2 linked regions of the Homo sapiens genome follow. The protein of the gene in region 2 interacts with the protein of the main gene of each other region in a biochemical or structural test. Each region holds a gene or a part of one and is shown on either strand. Other genes may lie near its edges. The genes, in order: SDHB and CARTPT.

What was found.
Region 1: the proteins of CARTPT (region 2) and SDHB form a complex in vitro, tested with the Homo sapiens proteins (one study listed by BioGRID).

The regions. Positions count from the first base shown.
Region 1 is NC_000001.11:17,029,420-17,037,927, reverse strand, and holds part of SDHB (succinate dehydrogenase [ubiquinone] iron-sulfur subunit, mitochondrial isoform 1 precursor), read left to right. Parts: intron 1-4,782; coding exon 4,783-4,868; intron 4,869-8,508. UniProt on the Homo sapiens protein: Iron-sulfur protein (IP) subunit of the succinate dehydrogenase complex (mitochondrial respiratory chain complex II), responsible for transferring electrons from succinate to ubiquinone (coenzyme Q).
Region 2 is NC_000005.10:71,713,675-71,722,362, reverse strand, and holds CARTPT (cocaine- and amphetamine-regulated transcript protein preproprotein), read right to left. Parts: upstream 3,089-8,688; 5' UTR 3,070-3,088; coding exon 2,911-3,069; intron 2,484-2,910; coding exon 2,400-2,483; intron 1,856-2,399; coding exon 1,748-1,855; 3' UTR 1,318-1,747; downstream 1-1,317. UniProt on the Homo sapiens protein: Satiety factor closely associated with the actions of leptin and neuropeptide Y; this anorectic peptide inhibits both normal and starvation-induced feeding and completely blocks the feeding response induced by neuropeptide Y and regulated by leptin in the hypothalamus.

The sequences.
Region 1 (8,508 bases), on a different chromosome or scaffold from region 2:
TGACCTCAGGTGATCTGCCCACCTCGGCCTCCCAAAGTGCTGGGATTGCAGGTGTGAGCCACTGTGCCTGGCCTGAAGCAGGAGAATTGCTTGAGCCTGGGAGTTGGAGACCAGCCTGGGCAACAAAATGAGACCCCCATCTCTACAAAAAAGCAAACAAAAAATTAGCCAGGCTGGGTGCGATGGCTCACGCCTGTAATCCCAACATTCTGAGAGGCCAAAGCAGGCAGATGACTTGAGTCCAGGAGTTCAAGACCACCCTGGACAACATGGCAAAACCCTGTCTCTACTAAAAATACAAAAATTAGCCAGGCATGGTAGCACACACCTGTAATCCCAGCTTCTTGGAAGGCTAAGGCACAAGAATTGCTTGAACCTAGGTGGCAGAGGTTGCAGTGAGCCAAGATCACGCCACTGCACTCCAGCCTGGGCAACAGAGCAAGACTGTGTCTCAAAAAATTTGCCAGGTGTGGTGGCACACTCCTGTAGTCCGAGCTACTTGGGAGGGTGGGGTGGGAGGATCACTTGAACCCAGGAGGTCGAGGCTGCAGTGAGCCATGATTCCATGCCCTACACTCCAGCCTGGGCAACAGAGGGAGACGCTGTCTCAAAAAAAAAAAAGAAAAGAAAATATAAGACATTGCCCCCTAGGAACTATTAGAACTAATGAACAAATTCAGCAAGGTTGGAGGACACAAAACTGGTATACAGAAATCAAATGTAGTTTAGTTTTTTATTATGCATAATTTGTCCATGTTTATTTCAACCTATGTCTGTCAGTCTTCATTTTATATTGTACCATGTTTTAATTATAGTTCTATTTCCTTCTAATCCGACTCTGAAACCCTACTTTGTAGCTATGTATACACACACAAAAAATAGCTATATTCTTTCATTTTCACAACAGCATAATTCTTTTTCTGAAAATACTGGCGTGTAGCAGATATTAGCAGATAAATGTATTTTTCTAGGCTAGGCATGGTGGCTCACACTTGTAATACTAGCACTTTCTTTGTGAGGCCAAGGCAGGAGGATTGCTTGAGGCCAGGAGTTTTGAGACCAGCCTGGGCAACAATAGCAAGACTTAGTCTCTACAGAAAAAATGTGTGTGTGTGTGTGTATACATATATATTTATATATGTATTTATATTTATATATTCATATTTATATAAATATTTATATTTATATATTCATATTTATATAAATATTTATATTTATATATTCATATTTATATAAATATTTATATTTATATATGTAAAACCCTGCTTACCTAGAAAAAAGCCTGTAAGTACTGTTAAAAAAACAAAAATTGGATTTCTATACACTAGCAATGAACAATCCTAAAATGAAATTTAAAAACTATTTTCCATATAACAGCATCAAAAAAGAAATTCTTAGGAACAAATTATATGGGCAATAAGACAAAACCCCATCTCTACAAAAAAAGTTAGCTGGGCTTGATGACCTTCCTGTGCCTATAGTCCCAGCTACTTGGAGGCTGAGGTGGGAGAATCACTTGAGCCTGGGAGGTCAAACCTGCAGTGAGCTGTGATCACAACACTGCACTCCATCCAGCCTGGGCGACAGAGTGAGATCCTGTCTCAAAAATCAAATAAGTAAAAGACTTATATGCTGAAAAACTGTAAAACATTGTTGAAAGAAATTTAAGAAGACATAAATAAATGGAAAGACATGCCCTGTTTGTGGGTTGGAAGACTTAATGTTGTTAAGGAGGCAGTGGTCTCCAAATTGATTTCCAGATTCATTGCAATCCCCATCAAAATCCCACCTGCCTTTTCTGCAGAAGTTGACAAGTTGATTCTAAAAATCTTATAGAAATGCAAGGGACCCAGAATATCAAACAATTTTGGTATCTATGTAAAATCTGAGAAAATTTATGTTGTACTCTTTAATGAGCCCTACCTATTAGGAAATTTAGCATGAAACAGCTTAAAGAGAGGACTTTGACTTTTTAATATTTTTCTCTGTCCCAGTATGATCTGCAGGATTACTTTTTACCTTTGATTTGAATTTATTTATTTATTTATCTATTTATTTATTTATTTTTTTGAGACAGTCTCGCTCTGTCTCCCAGGCTGGAGTGCAGTGGTGCGGTCTCGGCTCACTGCAACCTCCGCCTCTGGGGTTCAAGCAATTTTCCTGCCTCAGCCTCCCAAGTAATTGGGACTACAGGCACGTGCAACCACACCCAGCTAATTTTTTGTATTTTTAGTAGAGACGGTTTCACCACGTTAGCCAGGATGGTCTCAATCTCCTGACCTCATGATCCACCCGCCAAGGCCTCCCAAAGTGCCTCCCAAAGTGCTGGGATTACAGGCGTGAGCCACCCACCTGGCCAATTTGAAATTTTTATAGGCTGCAAATATTAGCCTTTGTAATGTAAAAAAAACAAAGATGTTGTTGTCATTTAAAATATGCTAGGACAAGAACAGGCAGATCATTAGAATAAAAATGTAGCAACAAAACAGACTCAATTTTATCTAAGTTCCCAGTATTAAATATGGGAGAAAGGTATTACAAATAAGAAGCAAAAGAGGATTTAGTCAGTGATTTGGGACAACTGATACAGTTTTTGCAGTTTTAGGGGAGTAACTTAAAATTTTTTTTAAGTAGAAAAAAATGTAAAGTATTTATCAGACCTCAGGAAGGGCAGTGGTCTGTTTAGGCTTAAAAGTGATAGATAATGTTATAAAAGAAAGAATAGCCACCTTTATTAATGTAAACATTTAACTCATGTATGTTTAAAATTCTGTTACCAAAATTAGAAGTCAAATAGCACATTACTATTGGCAGTGAGGGAGGAAGCAGAAATGGCAACAGATATAATATATAAGAGCCTCAGATCATGAAAAAGAATTTCCAAGACCCTGGTAAACAGAGGCAAAGAATGTGGACAGACTGAGTCTCTAGAATGAGTCCTCTGGAACAGAGCTTTGTGCGGGCAGGTGGTATTCGTCTCTTTTATTCTCTGCTACATCCCCAGCATCTAGAACAGAACCTGGCAGAGTAAATGTTCAATAAATAATTGGGAAATAAAGAAAAATTAGTAAATTTATGACAAACATTCAACCTATGTAGTATTCAAAAGTCTCGATTTAAAACACTGAAAACAATAACACTTCTCCAGTATCAGAATAGCAAAGGTTTTTAAAGCTTCCAATTCCCAGTGTTAGCAGAGGTCCAGCAGAAAGGACGTCTACATAGTGCTGATACAAATACAGATAATGGGCCAGACGCAGTCGCTCACACCTGTAATCCCAGCATTTGGGAAGGCTGAGGCAGGTGGATCACTTGAGGTCAGGAGTTTGAGACCAGCCTGGCCAACATGGGAAAACCTATCTCTACTAAAAATACAAAAATTTGCCGGGTGTGGTGGCATGCACCTGTAATCCCAGCTACTCGGGAGGCTGAGGCAGGAGAATCGCTTGAACCCGGAAGGTAGAGGTTGCAGTGAGCCGAGATCGCACCATTGCCTCACACCCATAATCCCAACACTTTGAGAATCCAAGGCAGGAGGATCACTTGAGTCCAGGAGTTAGAGACCAGCCTGGGCAACATGGCGAAATCCCACCTCTACAAAAAAATACAAAAATTAAGCTGGATGTGGTGGCACATACCTGTAGTCCCAGCTACTGGGGGGCTGAGGCAGGAGGATCTCTTGAGGCTGGGATGCGGAGGTTACAGATCTGAGATCGTGCCACTGCACTCCAGCCTGGGTAACAGAGCAAGACCCCGTCTCAAGAAAAAAAAGAAAAAAAATGAAATACAGATAGTACTAAAGGAAATGACGTATTTTTAAGTATATTTTTAATCTCATGCATAGAAAATTAGTGAGTGGAATGGGGGCAGGGTGGCAACCAGAAAATAGATTTGTGGAGCACTTACTGTATGCCAGGTACTATGAAAAATTACATATTTTTATGTAATTTTCACAGTAACCCTGTGGTGTAAATATTAACTCTACAGATAAACTGAGGTTCAGAGAGTAATTTCCGTAGAATCACAGTTTCTGCATGATGATTATTATAGTTAAACTATGATTTATATGTCAGATGCTGCTGTAAAGATCTCGTGTGTATTAACTCACCTCCAGCAATCCTGTGGGATGCAGGTGCTGCTCTCTGCACTCAGTGGATTAAATGCCTAGGCAGAAATTAAATCATTTGCCTGCAAGCTGGTAAGTGGCTCAGCCATGGTGCAGACCAGTCTCTTGGCTGCCAGGCCGGCACTCCAGGTCCCACGCCCAGGGATGCTCCGCTTAGTACCATGTCACTGCCCTTGTATGTTCTAGGAGGCTCACAGTGATTTGACTGGGGGACTGTGAGTGATTGGGTGTCTTTTATTCTCTGTACTATGTCTTCTCTTATGGTTATGTATTATTAATTACTATTTAAAACTATTGTCTACATCCTAAAAATCAAACTAAAATTTGAAATAAATTATTTGGAAAAACTTTGCAGGGAGCTTCAGAAGTAAAAAACAAAAACTCGGCCACTGTATGGAAGTTGTGTCATACTTGTCTACTACTACTTTAGCTTTCCATTTCCTAGAAATGTGTTTGCACTGTGATCATCAAAATAGAACTGTGCAGTACTTAAAATGTAAGAATCTGCAAAAACAAAACTACAGAACAAATTCCGAAGGTGACCTGAGAAGACCAAATGGATAAGCTAATACATCCAGGTGTCTCCGATTATATTATGATAAAGTGTAGGGAGGTTGAACGTTACATAAATACCACTGGATATTTTTCTTTGTTAGATGTGGCCCCATGGTATTGGATGCTTTAATCAAGATTAAGAATGAAGTTGACTCTACTTTGACCTTCCGAAGATCATGCAGAGAAGGTGAGCATTTCATTCCTGTTGGGCTCCAGATACTTGTGGTCTTCCAAAGAGGCTTGGGCTGGCCAAAGCTGATAGAGACATCTGGAAAACAGCTGCAGCTCTCTGCTGGGTGAACTTGCTGTGCAACCTAATTCCTTTTCTTGGGTAAATGCATCCAAAATTCTAACCATGGTGCAAGTTCTGGTTTCTGAGTTTACTTTCCTTCAGGAGCATTCTATCCTGTGGTTACTGCATCTGGCGGTCCCTGTGAGCTGCTCCACGCTTCAAGGCCTAGCTAGGACCTGCTGGCTGGCACCTTCCATGCTGCTGAGCTCTTTTATTAAGGGAGCAGTGGAGAGTTTCTGTCTGGCACTTATGCTTGTCCAGCAGGGGAGATGTGTGAGTCTCCCTCAGCTCCCAGCATGACATGTCCTTGGTAGCTGTGTTCTGGATTGGCTGGTACAGTGTCTCCCTCAGCATGTGGTTACTTGTGCTGCTGGTGCCACATGAGCCCATTTGAGGCAGTGTGCAGACTAACATTTTCTACATGAATAGCAATGTATTCATTTTCTGTATTAGAAAAATATAATTACTGCCGGGTGCGGTGGCTCACACCTGTAATCCCAGCACTTTGGGAGGCCGAGGCGGGTGGATCAGCTGGCGTCAGGAGTTCGAGATCAACCTGGCCAACATGGTGAAACCTTGTCTCTACTAAAAATACAAAAATTAGCCGGGCGTGATAGCGGACGCCTGTAATCCTGGCTACTCGGGAGGCTGAGGCAGGAACCCGGGAGGTGGAGTTTGCAGTGAGCCAAGATCACGCCACTGCACTCCAGCCTGGGCAATAGAGCGAGACAGTCTCAAAAAAAAAAAAAAGAAAAATATAATTACTAATGATGGTATAATAGGGATATAAGTGGTTTTTTAATGTGAATTTAAGCAAAACAAGTTAAAGAAAACCCAAGAGATACTTTAAAGAAAGTTGATTCAGGTGGTTCTCAGGTATAGCAAAAATTGCACAGGGTGCAGTGAAGACCGACTGGCCTGATGTCCGTGGAGCCAGACTGTGTGCCCGGCTCTGTTCTGTGCACTGGACATGAGGTAGATGACTGTGCTTATTATCTACCTTCAATTTAAAGGTGAGGCCCAGAGAGGGTAATGGACTTCCACAAGGACACATAGAGAGTGACTTGAGAGCCGGGAGTCAGCCAAAGCTGTCAGACTCCAGACTCCAGATCTGCTCTCTCAGGCACTGACTTGGCTTGGAACACCTGGGATAAAACAAAAGCAGAGAGTAGCTTGATTCTGTGAGGACACTGAGCTTTTTTCTAAGAAAACCTTAAAAAAAAAGGAAAAGCCAGTATTGATACCGGCCCATGGCTTTTTATCTGTTCAGCTGTACATTTCAAGCATTTCAAGTCTTTTAAGACATCTGTTTTGATTCAGCTAATCTTATTTAGCGTTGCAAATGCTGATGGATATTATGATAGTTCGGCTGAGTCCTGCTGTTCAGGGAACATTCTGCGGCAGTTAAACAGCAGCCTTCCCCATTAAGTCCTGGCAACACAGGAAAGGTAGATGCTTTTCAGTAACCTTTCCCTGTAGGACTCTTTCAGAACCAAGAACATAAGGTGTGACCCATCTGGACTAAAAAAAATAAAGCAGAATTGTATCAATTGCTACTCCTTTTTATTCCCATCTTGTTTTTCTTATTTTTTTTTTAATTCCCATCTTGTAAGAGAATTCCCAGGGAGCCTTTTTGAGAGAAAGTTCATTGGATTTATTTTTTTAATTTTTATGCCATTTCTTGTAAAAGCAAACTGCTCTAGTTGGATGCCAGGTATACATAAATGTATTGATAATATCCAGTCTCTTGGGGAACTCTAGGAGTATTTGCTTAAGACACATCTTTGGGTTCCCTTACACTCTTTCTAAGATTTACAGGAGAAGGAGAGTCTTACTGTCTTTTCTAGTCTTATGAAAGTGATAACCGACTGGGCGCAGTGGCTCACGCCTGTGATCCCAGTACTTTGGGAGGTCTAGGTGGTAGGCTAGCTTGAGGCTAGGAGTTTAAGACCAGCCTGGGAAACATAGACTCCCTTTCCATTAAAAAAAAAAAAAAAAAAGGTGAGGCCAGGCATTCAGAGGCCGAGGCGGGCAGATCACAAGGTCAGAGTTCGAGACCAGCCTGACCAACGTGGTAAAACCCCGTCTCTACTAAAAATACAAAAATTAGCCAGGTGTGGTGGCGGGCGTCTATAATCCCAGCTACTCAGGAGGCTGAGGCAGGAGAATCACTTGAACCCGGGAGGCAGAGGTTGCAGTAAGCCGAGATCGTGCCACTGCACTCCAGCCTGGGCGACAGAGCAAGACTCCATCTAAAAAAAAAAAAAGATGATAACCAGTGCAACTTTCTCAAGCAATCAGGTTTCTCTGACCTAATGATCTTCAAAAAACAGCTTCAGAGGACTGGCACTAGAGGTTTAGAGTACATAATCATTTTTAAATTCCAAAACACCCAGGAAATTTCCATATACAGGAAGTAGGTCCAGGCTAAGAAAATTCTCATGTCGGGGTCCTGGGTCAGCACGTTTTTTGTTTAGTTTGCTTTGCTTTGCCTCAGTTTCATATTAGTTCATTCTTCTCCTCTTTGGAAAGTCCATGCTGAGTCAGCTTTTGTGGATTTCATAGCCCCAGGGTACTATGCTGCGTATTTTATGAAGACAATAGAAGAAGCCTTACCTCTGTCAAGTGTAGTGGCTCAGGCCTGTAATCCCAACACAGTGGGAGGCAAAGGCAGAAGGATTACTTGAGGCCGTGAGTTAGAGACCAGCCTGGGCAATATAGTGAGACACCTGCTCTACAAAAAACAATTATTTTTTTCTTTTTTTTGAGATGGAATCTTGCTCTGTCACCCAGGCTGGAGTGCAGTGGCGCGATCTCTGCTCACTGCAACCTTCTCCTCCTCAGTTCAAATGATTCTCCCGCCTCACCCTCCTGAGTAGCTGGGATTACAGGCACCCACCACGACTTATATTTTTAGTAGAGACAGGGGGTTACCATGTTGGCCAAACTGGTCTCGAACTCCTGACCTCAAGTGATCTGCCCACCTCAGCCTCCCAAAGTGCTGGGATTCCAGGTGTGAGCCACTTCACCCAACCTACAAAGAATTTTTTTGAATTCGCCGCACATGGCGGCATGTGCCTGTAGTCCCAACTACTCAGGAGGCTGTGGTGGGAGGATCGCTTGAGCCCAGAAGTTTGAGGCTAAAGTGAGCTACAGTGAGCTATGACTCCACCACTGTACTTCAGCCTGGGTGACACAGCAAGACTCAGCCAAGAAAAAAAAAGAAGAAGAGCTATCTCTTAATAATCTGTATCCAGGTCACTTCAACCTTAAGATGACCAAGACAATGTTGATTTACTTTACTTTTGGGTATTGTGTCTGTTAGATTTGTGTTCAAATAACAGTGGCTTTAAAAAATCTAGGTTTCCAGGCGTGAGCCACCACACCCACCCCTACTCAGGAGGCTGAGGCAGGAGAATCACTTGAACTGGGGAGGCGGAGGTTGCAGTGAGCCAAGATCGCGGCATTGCACTCCAGCCTGGGCAACAAGAGCAAAACTCCTTCTCAAAGAAAAAAAAAAAAAATAGGCTTGACG
Region 2 (8,688 bases):
GCACTTCAGCCTGGGTGACAGAGTGAGACCCTGTCTCAAAAAAAAAAAAAAAAAGAAAAGAAAAGAAAAGAAACAAACAAAAATACCACATTCTAATCACATATAGGCTTGTGTAGGGGAATTCAAACGGAAACACAGCCCCAAAAAATACACCTTGGCCCCCAGTGAGCAATTTTTATTAAGGAAAGATGTGCTTTCTGGGGAATTCAAAGCCCAGTCTGTTGATTGCCTAAGTGACATGGAGAAAAAGGACAAATCTTTGGAGTCAAAGGGATTACAGCTAAAATTATTATTTAGGATTATATGGTGTAAGCAAATTCCATAATTCTCTTGCCCTCTGTTTTCTACTCTGAAAAATAGTAATAATATCTATCTTGCAAGATTAGGCATGCTAATAATAATAATCACACTGAAAATGGTAACTGTGTATAAGAATATTTTCTATCAGAAAACTCCCTATGAATCCGTGGAGGGGCTTTATTTTTCAATTCTGCTATTATGCAAGTGCCTCTTGAGTTTGGATTAGGAAGCTGTTAACATTTATTTCTCTCATGATGCTGCTACTTAGATGTTACTTAGTCTGGTTTAAACCCTTGGAAATGTGACCTCAAATAAGCACTCAGAAATATTTAAAAGCTACTTAACTTTACATTTAATATGTTTTAATTTCTTGAGTTGAATTCTCACCTCCTCCAATTTTTATTTGTTCCCCTCAAAACTATTTTCTGAAATGACTCTTTCTCCTGGAATAGAGAATTTTTTCCAAGAGTGTGAATTTACTTGTGGGAATGAATGGGTCTTATAACCTTGGAGTCTTTAGACAAATAACAACCCTAAACAGCCCATATCTTTAAATCAATGTATATTTTCTAATAAGGGAGTTGTCAAAACAAAATTTCTAATTTTTCAAATTGCTTTTAATGTGACTAAAACATGAAACTGTTTATAGTTTATTGGTCTCACTGTTTAAAGTAAAGGGTCTGGCTAAAGGTTTTAATAAACAAAATTATATAACCTCAACTCCAACCATCTCCATCTCATTCATCTCTCTCTTTCTCTCTCTCTCTCTCACACACACACACACACACACATACACACACACATACACACACCACATCGCTGCAATCAAAGAAAAATAGAGTATACTAAAACTGGCTTGGCAAACTTCTAATTAACGATCAAAACTCCTTGGAGCTAAGGTGCCATTTTCCCAATAGGCTGCTATTTTTAAAATATTTTTCTTTGAAAACAACAGCATGATTAATCTCACCATTTCCACTTAAATTACTTATATGAAAACAGCAGTGCACTATGGGCAATTATTAAAAACACTTTATTATGTATAATTTGTACATGCTTCAATTTGTGTCACTTAGGGTGATTTATTTTCCAGGTTGTAATGACATCTACCGAGATTAGCTAGATCTAATTTTCATTCTGCCATGCCACATACAAAAATACAATTTTCAAACAAAGCTTCCCTTCTTTACACAAAGGTACACAAGAGTTTGTCAGACAAATAAAATAAGAATACTTCACACACGTATCAACACCATACAAGGCATTATTCTTCACACAGTAACATCTAATGTGTTCTTTTATTTTTGAAACAGCAGGAAAAGAGCCCTTTCCCTTCAGAGGAAAATAAAAACTTTATCTGTTGCTTAAGCCAAACTCCAGGGAGGAAGGTGTGGTCCTCTGGGGAAAGTAGAGGGATGGGGATGTATGGAGGAGAATGGACGCCCCTTCATAAGCACTTCAGGAGGAAGGAATTGCAGGAGGTTCCTCGGGGACAGTCACACAGCTTCCCGATCCTTGCCCCTTTCCTCACTGCACACTGCTCACCGGCGTCACACTGAAACAACAAAATGTGTGGTCATCGAGTATGAACAAACCCAGGTTCCCAACAGGCAAGTCTCACAGTCAACGCAATTTCTGTCTCTTGAAAGGGGCAATTGGACCCCATCACCATCACAAGAGGTCTACGTACAGTCAGATCTGAAACAGGGAGCCTTGTGCTTATAACCTCAGTGAGAGTACATTTTTTAAAGAAACTTACATTATTAGTTTTATCCTAGTTTCTTCCACCTTTAAGTGGCGAGGGTTGGGGGGCGTGGGAAGGGGAGCATCACATTTCCTGGCTCCTTTTCTTGCCCTCTCAGAGGGGAAAAAAATCAGACCTTTTTCCTGAGCAACAAACAATAGACTTACACTTTCTTACAACCCCTGTTCCTGCTTTCCCATTTCCTCACCCGGGAAGGAAGAAGGAGCCCACAGAATCCTGCAAGCCCATTACCTAAGTTATTTAGCCACATCCTACGGAGAAGACTGTGTGTACGATTCAAGGCGGTGTACTTTCTCTTGGAAAAACACGGGAAGGGAGTGACCACAAACCTTACCATGGGGACTTGGCCATACTTCTTCTCATAGATGGGAACACGTTTACTCTTGAGCTTCTTCAAGACTTCTTGCAGCGCTTCGATCTGCAACACACCGCTTCGGAGCCTGAAGTTGCCGCCTTGGCTGCGAGCCCAGCCCAGGTGCGCACTTCCAGCCCTAGTTATAAGGAGCCCCGGACCCACACGCACTCTGCGGTGGGACTCCGCGGACACAGGGAATGGTCGAGGGGTGGAAACTTAGCGGACGCTGTCCCAGGTACTGACCGCGGGTCTCTGAGCCGCTGGGGTCCCTGTTGCTCAGAGGGGCCGGGATGAGGGATTCGCTCAACAGACTGCCAGGAGCCCGTGAGCTCGAGACGCTCTTCGGATGGCAGTGGGTGCCTGGGCGTTGCGCTCAGCTCCCCGCGCCCTGACTCTGGGAATAGGAGTGGGGGTGGGGGGAGGAGGGAGGCGTGCAAGAGAAGAGACAAGGCGACAGCTCAAGGGGGTCGAGAGCGAGGGGAATACCGACCAGCTCCTTCTCGTGGGAGGCATCATCCACGGCAGAGTAGATGTCCAGGGCTCGGGGCTGGAGCTCGGCGTCCTCCTGGGCACGGGTACCCAACAGAGGTAGCATCAGCAGCAGGGCGGCGCCCAGGAGGGGCAGCAGCCTCACGCGGGAGCTCTCCATCGTTCTGAAACTCGTCGTTGCTGGGGCACCACGCGCTCCCACCTTTTATAGTGAGCCCGAGCCCCCGTGCAGGAAAGAGGGAGGAGGCGAAGAAGGAAGGGGGTGTGGAGGAGGGCCCGGGTCAACCGTCTGTAGGCAGCGCTCCGCCGGCGCTTGACGTCAATGCCCGCCGGGTTCCAGGCGCCTGGGAACGAGGCTCTGCGCACAGATGGGCTAGAGCGCAGAGAACAGGACCCTGCGCCCCCAAAGGCTGTCAGTCTCACGGCAAGGGATGCTCCCCGAGGGGCCTGAGCTGAAGCCGAGGGGCTAGAGGTGAGGGACGGGAAGCGGGAGGGGCCTAGGAAATGGAAAATGCCTTCGGGTCAATGCACAGGCAGGAGAGTCGTTTCCCAACACCTAGCAGTGGTGACAGCTGCAACATCCACCTCGCCAGCCCTGCCTTGCCTCGCACCCCAACCCCAAGTGTGGCGGTGAGAAGGGGGTGTTGCCTCCAGACAGCCACATTTGCTGAGCACCTTACTCTGTGGGGTAGGGGAAGCAAACATACTATACAAAAGAAAGAGAAATAGTGGCCCTCCACGTGATGGGTTCTATGATGGAATCTGTGTGACAATAGTTAAAAGAAGAGAGGGAAAACAGACAAACCCGGATTCAGCAGTGGTGTTGGAAGTGCAGAGAGCCAGGCTCTGGTTCCCATCCTGGCTACACCACGTAAAAGTTGTATGACTTTGAACAAAATGAAGAACCTCTCCAAGCCTCAGCTTTCTCTTTTGTAGATCTAGGATTAAAAAGATATACCTCACAAAGTCATCAGTAGGATGAAATGAGAGATTAAGTATGTCAAACTCCTGGTTCTTAGCTAAGCTTCCCTGTCCCTCCTTTTTGAACTTTGAGGCTGCCCAGGCAAATTTAACCATCCCCAGAACCTCCCCCCACCCACCACCAACCCTTGGTATCCAAGAAGCCTGTCTAGAAAGAGAGTAAAAGAGTGAAAAGAAAGACAGCTCCATGATTATGAAAATATCTCCAGAGATCAGAAGTCAATGGTGAACCAGCTCCCCAACAACTTGGGAGAACAATGTGGCTTTTTTAAAAGTTGAGATCCTTACAGCCTGAATGCACAGGAAAATTCCTGTAGGAAAAGCAATGCTTTCCCGCTTAGACCTGCTTGCTCACCTGGCTTCCTTCACCACACCATCTTTCCCTCAACTGTTCCTAAATTCATCCACTCTTCTCCATCCCCATTACTACAACCCAGTCCTAGACAGCTGCCCCAGTCAACTTAATGTCTACCACTTAATCCCCACCCTATCTTCTCTTGCCTTCCTCTACTCCATAGTTCACCACCAACCAGAGTATTTTTCCCCTTAAAATACACTAATGACTCCTAATCTTACTAAGCACTGAATCTAGATTCCTCATCCTGACTTGCAAAGCATTATATGATCTTCACCCCTCTCCACCTCATGTTCTACCACTCTGCCCCAGACTCCTCCACTCCAACCTCACATGGCCTTCTTTCTGGTCCTCTAGCAGGCCAATCTCATTCATACTTTGATGTCTTTGCACTTACCCCTCCTTGAAAGGTCTTCCTGTATTTCCAAAAGGCTCACTACTTCTGTTATTTAAATCTCAGTGTAAATATCTATGACTACTCAATCCAAACCATCTATCAATACTTTTCTCCCACAAATTTATTGCATAGCAGATTATGTGGGTCATTAAGATAGTTTAATACACAATATATGCCTGGTTACTTCAACTATCAAGTATTTAATTGGTACTCAAATACTCACTGGGAAGCAATTCAAGAAGTGATATCTCTTCTAATGAATAGCACACATATTAACAGCATCAAAATATTTTGCTGTGGGGTAAACCCAACTTGAAAATGTATCTAACACCTCCCTCAGCTCTGCCTTCCACACATACCTTTTGATTCTGCACAAGAAAACTTCAGTGGCAGCACGTTTTACTGTTAAAACCTTACAGAGACATATTGACACTCACTGCAAAAACCATCTCCAGTGATCTTTAAACTATTCTAAGCTTCAGAAGAAAAATAATCTCAAATAAGATTTTAGCCTATTCTTCCTGAAGGATGTAGATATTGTCAATGCAATACTTTCTCTCCAATTTTGTTCTACCCAGACACAAGTAATAACTTTCCCTTTGTGCTACTTCTATTGGAAAAAAATCCAAAGTTTAAATCTTGCTGAACTTGAGTTGGTGCTATCATTTTCTTATAAGGAAGGCACATTTAGTTAAGGGGTTAGGGAAAGGACTCTTGGAAAATCCTGTGAAACAAGCCAGGGGCATCTTTGTCACTTACATACCACAGGCTTTTCTTCATCTTGAACAGAATGACTTTATAAACTGTCTTTAGCTAGCATGGTATAGTAAATTCTAGGCTATCTTCTTCCCAAAGACAACTTTTATGTAAGTTAAAACTCAAAAAGAAACAAAAGCATGAGACATTCCACAGTCTTCATATTATGCCCTGTTAGGAGAATTTGTATATTCTTACTACTTTGTAATGACTCCATTAGGGGAAAAAAGCCCATCACTGATGCCCCAAGCAATTAAAATCATATGGAATTTAACTACTACTTCTCACCCCAGATATAGAAAAGGGAGGCAGGTCACCTCATGAAAGAGAAGCAATGGCCAGGATGGGTCTTTGGAGATTTAATGTGAACAAATCTCTCTTAATCATCTTTTCTGAGATAGAGTAGGCCTCCAGTCCTGCTCTTTGAAATAGCTCAAGTAAAGAAATCTCATAAGCAGACAGCCAAGAAACCAGTGCCAGCAAGATCTACTTACAACATACTGCTATCTGAGAACATTTTAAAAACCTCTTCTTACTCATGCCTAACTCTTGGAGTCCTGAACTTTTCACTATAAAAATAACCCATCAATTGATTTGTGACTTGGCAAGAAAACGATGTCTGTATTGTTCTTGGAAAAAAGAAAACACACACACACACCCCTTAAAACATATGTGTTCAATATTACTAAATTAGAACCCTAGAGCCCTAAGATTTTAAGTAATGAGAAGGTCATGGCAGAATTTAACACCACAGTGATGTTTTTTCCTAAGCTTTAGTATTTCTCTCTCCCTTCCTTTCTCCTTCAGTTGTGAATAATTTCTGTTCCTATGTAACTCAGAATAACACTGGCCTCTTAGGTTGTCGTATTTCCCAAATATCAGACTACTTTGTTAACCATTAACCCTCCTCTCCCATCCCTCACCCCAACCAAGTCTTGTTCAACAGTAAAACATCCTCAATTTCAGCGAGGTGCAGTGGCTTACACCTGTAATCCTAACACTTTGGAAGGCCGAGGCAAGAGGATTATTTGAGCTCAAAAGTTCAAGACCAGTCTGGTCTGGCTGGGCACAATGGCTCACGCCCGTAATCCCAGCACTTTGGGAGGCCAAGGCAGGTGGATCACCTGAGGTCAGGAGTTTGAGATCAGCCTGGCCAACATGGCAAAACCCCATCTCTACTAAAAATACACAAATTAGCCAGGTGTGGTGGCATGCACCTGTAATCCCAGCTACTTGGGAGGCTGAGGCAGGAGAATTACTTGAACCCAGCAGGGCAGAGATTGCAGTGAGCTGAGATCACACCACTACACTCCAGCCTAGGTGACAAAGCGAGGCTCTGTCTCAAAAACAAAACAAAACAAAACAAAACAAAAAAACAGTCTGGTCAACATGGTGAAACCACATATCTACAAAAGAAAAAAAAAAAGAAAAGAAAAAAAAAATTAGTCAGAAGTGGTGGCACATGCCTGTAGTCCCAGCTACTCAGGAGGCTGAGGTAGGAGGATTAATTGGGCTCAAGAAGTTGAGGTTGCAATGAGCCATGATCACACCACCACTGCACTCCAGCTTGGGTGACAAAGTGAGCCCCTGTGACAAAAATAAAATAAAAATTTAAAATTTCAATTTAAATTTTGGTAAGTCCTCAGTTTTATTGACTTCCTAAATATTCATATTTAAGACTGTTTCTCCTTATTTGTGTTAGTTGCACTTTCCTCCAAGTTAAACATCACTCTGTTCTCTTTGGTACACATATGCAATCTCTTGGGTGACTTTTTTTCATTTCTACATTGTTTGCTCTCCACTCTTCCTCCCTGCAGAAGAGAGATTAATTCCCATTGACATTTATGTTCTGTTTACTTCCAAGCCATAGCCTTCCAAAGGAACTGCTATTCACTGTGTTCTAACTAAACATCTTTATCACTATCTGAAAGAAAATAATCTGTAAGTAAAGGACACTTGGAGTCGGTTCTAAATTGGGAGGGGTGGAGATGCAGTAGCAAAGAACATGTGCTTTACAGACTGCTTCTGAAGGAGCAAAGCAGGCGAAATTAAACAAAGCTTTTCAGTCAATTTTTTAAGCTTCCAATTGAAAAGCTTTCCATTTCAAGACTTAATTTTAAAATCTGGGTGCCCTATATGCTCACAACTCTGCTAAGTATTTTGAGGACTGCTGAGATAATCCAGACACTTCTTGCCTTGAGGATCTTTGGGTCTAGTCATTTGTGCCCACGTCCACAAACTCCTAAAATACAATGACTTAGTGAGATGAGGGTCCTACTAGAGAAAGAGGAGCCCAGAGAAGTCAGAGATTCATTGCCACAAGAGGGAATCTTCGTGAAAAAGGGGCATCCTTTGAATGAGCTACTGAGTCCTAGGGGATGGGTAGAATTCCAACAATAGCAAACATCCCACTCTGGGACCTTGGGGGCGGGCAGGCAGCAAAGTCAAGTCATCAAGGTAGGAGATCTGGGGAGCACTGAGTGCTCTGGGTTGCTGGAGAGCAGGGTGCATGGGAATGTGAGAGACGGGGAAGCATAATGGGAAACAAGCCTGAAAAGGAACTTTGGAGCACAAAAAGAAAATCCAGAGTGGCAATAGATAGTTCCAAATTTGGATCCAATAAACAGGTGGTAGGAGCACAGATGAACCCAAAAGATTTCATTTTTCAAATACTAAAAACAAGCTTTTAACCTAAAGGTCTAGCCTGAGAAAAGTGGTCCTTTTCAGATATAGGGAGATAGCACTGACCAAGAGATAGATTGTTTCCTAGGACAAGGAAACATTTATCTGGATCCCAGCACAGCACACCTTGTTGGAGTGCGGCAGGGGTGGCATGCCAAAACCACACTTTACATGCCACCGCTAACACCATCTTCTCCTCTAACTTTTCCAGATCCAGATCTCCTAAGCTTACAGAAAGTGTAAAACTAGCACTAAAGCAGCTGATTAGAATACCCAAGAAATTAACTATATGACTTAATAGGGAGCAATTTTGAATCATTCAGTGATTGTTCATTGTCTATAGGTTCAAGTCAACTTCTCAGCATGGTGTTGAAGTTTCTTATAATATGGCTCTGGCCATATTTCTAATCTCATTTTTCTCTGCTCCCAACCAGTTCCATCAGATATATTTTACTTTGTAGGTACATCAGCCTTATTTCTTAATTTTGCACCGAATTTACTAGGTTATGCTGCTACAACAAACAACTCCCAAATCTTGGTGACTTAAAAAATATGCAGTTATATTTCTCACTCGTGTCCCATGTGCATCAAGAATTGATGGAGTGTTC